2 linked regions of the Homo sapiens genome follow. The protein of the gene in region 1 purifies or fractionates together with the protein of each later gene. This does not show direct contact. Each region holds a gene or a part of one and is shown in the gene's direction. Other genes may lie near its edges.

The links. Proteins that work in one complex are often made in the same cells at the same time.
Region 2: the proteins of TMEM134 (region 1) and UBXN4 purify together in Homo sapiens (affinity purification with mass spectrometry; one large-scale study listed by BioGRID and IntAct). This does not show direct contact.

The regions. Positions count from the first base shown.
Region 1 is NC_000011.10:67,463,650-67,466,330, reverse strand, and holds part of TMEM134 (transmembrane protein 134), read left to right. Parts: exon of another isoform or gene 1-1,057; intron 1,058-1,063; exon of another isoform or gene 1,064-1,230; coding exon 1,231-1,275; intron 1,276-1,474; coding exon 1,475-1,528; intron 1,529-1,634; coding exon 1,635-1,717; 3' UTR 1,718-2,681.
Region 2 is NC_000002.12:135,779,837-135,782,847, forward strand, and holds part of UBXN4 (UBX domain-containing protein 4), read left to right. Parts: intron 1-346; coding exon 347-549; intron 550-2,912; coding exon 2,913-3,011. UniProt on the Homo sapiens protein: Involved in endoplasmic reticulum-associated protein degradation (ERAD). Acts as a platform to recruit both UBQLN1 and VCP to the ER during ERAD.

The DNA.
Region 1 (2,681 bases):
TGTCGCCCAGGCAGGAGTGTAGTGGCGCAATCTCGGCTCACTGCAACCTCTGCCTCCTGGGTTCAAGGGATTTTCATGCCTTAGCCTCCAGAGTAGCTGGGATTACAGGCGCGCGCCACCACACCTGGCTAATTTTTTGTATTTTTTTAGTAGAGATGGGGTTTCACCATGTTGGCCTCAGGTGATCCACCCACCTCAGCTTCCCAAAGTGTTGGGATTACAGGCGTGAGCCACCACGCCCAGCCCTTTTTATTTTTTAGAGACAGGGTCTTGTTCTGTTGCCCAAGCTGGAGAGCTGTGGTATGATCACTGCAGCCTCAAACTCTTGGACTCAAGCCATCCTCCCAGCTGAGCCTCCCTAGTAGCTGGGACTACAGGCATGTACCACCATGCTCAGCTAATTTTTTTTTTTTTAAAATAATAATAGAGACAAGGTCTCACTATGTTGCCCAGGCTGGTCTTGAACTCCTGAACTCAAGTGATCCTCCTGCCTCAGCCTCCCAAAGTGCTAGGATTACAGCCATGAGTCACCACGCCTGGGCTGGGCTAATTTTTTTTTAACCTTTTATAGAGATGGGGATCTTGGTATGTTGCCCAGGCTGGCTTCAAACTCCTGGCCTCAAGCGATCTTCCTGCCTTGGCTCCCTGAAGCACTGGGATTACAGGCATGAGCCACCACACCTGGCCCACCCTTTTTGAAGTAGTCTGGGCAATGCACAAAGCAGTCCATGGTGGCCCCCCAGTCCCCCAGGCTTACTACCCCCCTTGTTGCAGAGCCCAAAGTCCAGCTCCTCATTCCCCCATCACTCTTCTAACTGGGGACCCAGGACTCCTGCACTGCCCTGTTCTTACCCCCTATATCCCAATCACCTGTACTGTTAGCTTTCAGGTTCTTATTGGTTCCTCCACTAAGGACGGGCCATGAGGGCAGGGACCTTATCTGCCCTTCAGGGCGGAATTCCCAGTACCAGGCACGCAGTAGGTGTTCCATAAATGTTTGCTGAATGACTAAAAGCCCACCCCAAGGAACAAAGAAAAATCTCTCCTTTCACACACTTCCCAGGGCCTGCTCAGTGCCTTGCTCTGGAAACAGAGCTTGGTGAGCTTCCTGGGGAGGGTCTCTGCCTAGGGCACCTTCAGCTCAGGTGGTGGGTGAGCCGGGCTGGGGGTGGGAGCCCCCGCCCTCACCACTGCTCCTGCCCCCACCCCCGCGGCTCCGTCTGTGTGCAGTGCTGATCCTGGTCGGCGTGGGACTGGAGGCGACCCCCTCTCCAGGTGAGCGACCCTCCCGCCCCCACAGGCAGAGGACACCCCTGTCTTGTGTCCACGGGTCCACGGCAAGCCCTCCCACCTCCCGGCAGTACACGGCTCCTTTTCAGCTGGGAGTGAGGCTTGCCCGGGCAGTCAGCGGCAGCCCGGAAGGCCTCGAAGCCTCCGCCCCCTCGCCCTGACCGGGCTCTGGTCCCTCCCGCAGGTGTCTCCAGCGCCATCTTCTTCGTGCCGGGCTTCCTGTTGTTGGTGCCTGGAGGTGCGAGCGGGCACCGGGGCGGAAGGGGCGGGGGCTGTGGGGCGGCACTGGGGGCGGTGTTGCGGGGAGGGGCGGGGCTTCTGCGCTGACAGGCCCCGCCCCGCAGTCTATCACGTGATCTTCATCTACTGCGCGGTCAAGGGCCACCGGGGCTTCCAGTTCTTCTACCTGCCCTACTTCGAGAAGTGATCGCGGCGCAGCGTGGACCCCTTGCGCCCATGGGGGCGCCCCTCTTGCCCTGTTCCGTTCCCCTCATCTCAAGGGAAGAGGCCCTCCAGGACCCTCGAAACCCCAGCCCCTAGGGAGTTTGCTCAGGAAGTTCGGGGCATGCAGGCCTGGCCCTGGGAAAGCCGCCCGTCGCCTGCTCTGTGCCTTAACTTATTCTCGGGCCGTGCGGCTGCTAGGTTGCTGTTATTTTGTGCTAATAAAAGAGTAATTAATTCCACCAGAGGCAATTGCTCTCCTCCTGTCCTGCCACTGCTAGCCCAGCCCACCAGCCTGACCACAGCCCCCCTCCCAAGGACTGACCCTGACGCTGAAGGGCTTCGAGCACCACCGAACGCGTGGCAGCCCTGATGCTGAGGCTTGCCCAAGGGCACGGGGCATGTTAGGGGCAGAGCTGGGCGTAGGACTCCTGCCTTGCCAGCCAGGAGCCGGCCGGAACAGCCTGCCCCACCCCCAGCCCTTGGATGACTCAACCAGCCCGTCTCTGTCTGGTGGCCCTGGCCGAGGGCACGCAGAGATGACGCAGGCCTGGGACCTGGAGGCTGGTATCCTAGTTCCAGCCTGGCTCTGGGGCCCTGGGCTGCCACAGCCAGCCCTGAATGTGGGCCATGTCAAGGCAATGGCCCAGCCCCCTCCACCCACTGCCCTCCTTCCCAGTCCCAGAGGTTGGGAGAACCTGGGGGCAGAGGGCATAGGAAGCCGCGCCTGACAGACACCCTCAGTGGTCAAAGACTTAGAAATGCAGAACGTTAGAAACAAACCATCTCAGAATTTTGGAACATCAGCATTTCAGAATCTTACGAAACAAGAAACAGAATCTTTGAGAAACCTGAAATCTGAGATCATAGTAGCTACCAGTTATCAATTTGTTGAAAGACCCCAGGATGGCCGGGCACGGTGGCTCAAGCCTGTAATCCTAGCACTTTGA
Region 2 (3,011 bases), on another chromosome or scaffold:
TACAATTATTATATAAAATAATTATATAAAATAATTTTATAATTATAATATATTATATAAAATATAATATATATAATATATAAAATAATTGTATACTATACAATTATACAGTTATTATACAATTATATACAATTGTATAATATTGTATATTTATCTTTAAAAACTTCTGGGAGTCTTCAGAAGTTTATATATACGTGAAAAACAGCAAAAGATATCATTTTACCCTCTTGAAGTAAACTAAAATTGGTAGGACCTCCTTTTCCAGATAAAAGTTTCATCTGGAACCTTGGGCGTGATGTGATTGTGCTAACGTAGTCTTTATCTAGGTTTGTTTATTAATTTCTAGGCAGGAAGACCAACTGCATCCATTGTACACTCTTCCAGCGGAGACATTTGGACCTTGTTGGGAACAGTGCTTTATCCATTCCTTGCCATCTGGAGATTAATTAGCAATTTCTTGTTTAGTAATCCGCCTCCCACACAGACTTCAGTGAGAGTAACATCGTCAGAACCCCCAAACCCTGCATCATCTAGCAAATCAGAAAAAAGGTATCTGTGTGTGTTTTCCCCATTTATAAAATATGTAAGTCATGCCCAGTATCTTTTTTAAGTAAAAAGTTGAGTACTTTGCCTTTCTGTATATGTCCTCTCCAGTTCCCACGGTGGAGGAGAAAAACTCCGATGCTCTGAAACTTTATTACATCATCTCTACTGCAGAGCTCACTACCTGCGTTTTCTCAGCCAGCTTTATAAAACCAATTTTTTGGAAAGCAGCTTCACCTCTACTGGTTTATTGTTTCATTCATTGAAGTTTCTTTACCCCATAACTATCAAGGCAGATTTTTTTTTCTAGTAACCTCTTTCTTGCTAACCATGTTTGCTTGACAAGATAGTTCATTGCATTAATCGTTCAGGGTCATCTTGCATAATTACTGTAGGTGAACTACTCTGTTTTGATCATTTTAACCCTGTTGGTTCTTTTATCTACCGGCTGACAGCCTTGTCTGGATCATTCAGAGAAGGACCAAATTGTGGAAACAGGTTATTGCTTTGAAAATTCTCTCTCAGAGAATTATTTTGGACTAATCCCTTAACCAAGAGACCAGGGCCTGATGCAGTGGCTCACGCCTGTAATCCCAGCACTTTGGGAGGCTGAGGCGAGAGAATTACTTGAGCTTATGCATTCAAGACTAGCCTGGGCAATATAGTGAGACCTTGTCTGTACAAAAACAATTTAAAAATTTGCCAGGCACATGTCTGTGGTCCCAGCTACTTGGGAGGCTGAGATGGGAAGATCACTTGAGCCCGGGAGATTGAGGCTGCAGTGAGCCAAGATTGTGCCATTGCACTCCAGCCTGGGTGACAGAGTAAGAGTGAGATCCTGTCTCAAAACAAAAACAAAACAACTTTTATAGCAGATAGCATGCAATGGTTAGCATAGTAATACAACACTGACAATTTTAACTCCTATCTTTGTTAAGATTTTATATACTTGAAACAGGTTAATGGGAAGTATTTTCCTAGAAAGTAAGTTTATGCCCCTTTCTAATAATTACATAATAATGTAACTTACTGAAATGGACACCGCTGTTAAGCACTCTATGAGGCCTTTTATAGGCATTATAACAAATCTTCATGCCAGTCCTATGTGATAAGTAATAGAAATTCTTTTTTCTCTGCCCTCAGTATGGAGAAGCCCTAGTCATGTGTTTATGGATTCCATAGGTAATGACATATAAGTATTGTGATTGGGCTGCTTTGTCCTTTATCTTATTTCATAACTGTTAGGCAGGAAGACCAGTTACCTACTAAGTACGTTACTGTAGTGAGGACAGAGGGAAGCTCAAACAAGGCTGAATCTTAAAACTCTTACTGAGCAATGGGTGGGAGCATTTAATACTGAATTACTGTAATATAGGAGAGCTCGTTGTATGGATTTTTAAAACTTTTTTCAGGCTGGGTGTGGTACCTCATACTTGTAATCCCAGCTCTTTGGGAAGCTGAGGTGCAAGGATCACTTGAGGCCAGAAGTTTGAGACCAGCCTGGGCAACATAGTGAGGCTCCATCTCTACAAAAAAAACTTTTAGTGAGCTGTGTGTGATAGCGTGTGCCTATAGTTTCAGCTGCCTGGGAAGCTGGGGCAGGAGGATTGTGTGAGCTCCAGAGTTTTGAGGCTGTAGTGAACCGTGATCGTGCCACTGCACTCTAGCCTGGGCAACAGAGGGGACACCCTGTCTCAAAAAAGAACAAAAAACAACACTTTTTTCAAATAAGAGAAAGGTCTTAGATTAGAGCAAAGGATGGAATAAAAGGTGTGTCAAAGAGAGGGTGAAGCTTTGTGTTCCACCATTATTTTTCCTTTTTTCTCTCCCCTCTAGAGTTATAAAAGTCTGTTGGCTTAAATTTTATCCTTATACCTTTGTATTTTCAGAATAGGAAGTCCTCTTCATTCTTAATTGTTTATAAATAAGTCATTCTTGAAGATTTTGCGAAGGATTTAAAATTGACCCTTTCTGTCAAGCTGACTGGAGCTTTGGATAGTCTCTAGGGTGCTAAGTTACAAATGTTTTAGTAGATAATGTCGGCTTGCATAAATAACAAAGGAAAGATTAGTTGGCAAATGGTCACACTCCTCTAATGCTTATTAAGTCACTAAGAAACACAATGGAAATGGAATATATGATTTGGCTGGCTGGCTTGACTTAGAGATCAGATGAAGCTAAACTACCAAAGACTGCTAAAGTCTAGTACTGTGTTAGTAGATATAATGGTCTCCCATGGACTTTCCTTACTTTAGATGGCATTAAAAGTAAAACTTAGTTGCCTGTACTGATGGAAGTTGGAAACAGCTTGTATTACTATTGTTTTTATTTTATGACATCTTCCCCTTGCTCCCTCTTTTTCGTATCAGGGAACCAGTGAGAAAAAGAGTGCTGGAAAAACGTGGAGACGACTTTAAAAAGGAGGGGAAAATTTATAGATTAAGGACTCAAGATGATGGTGAAGATGA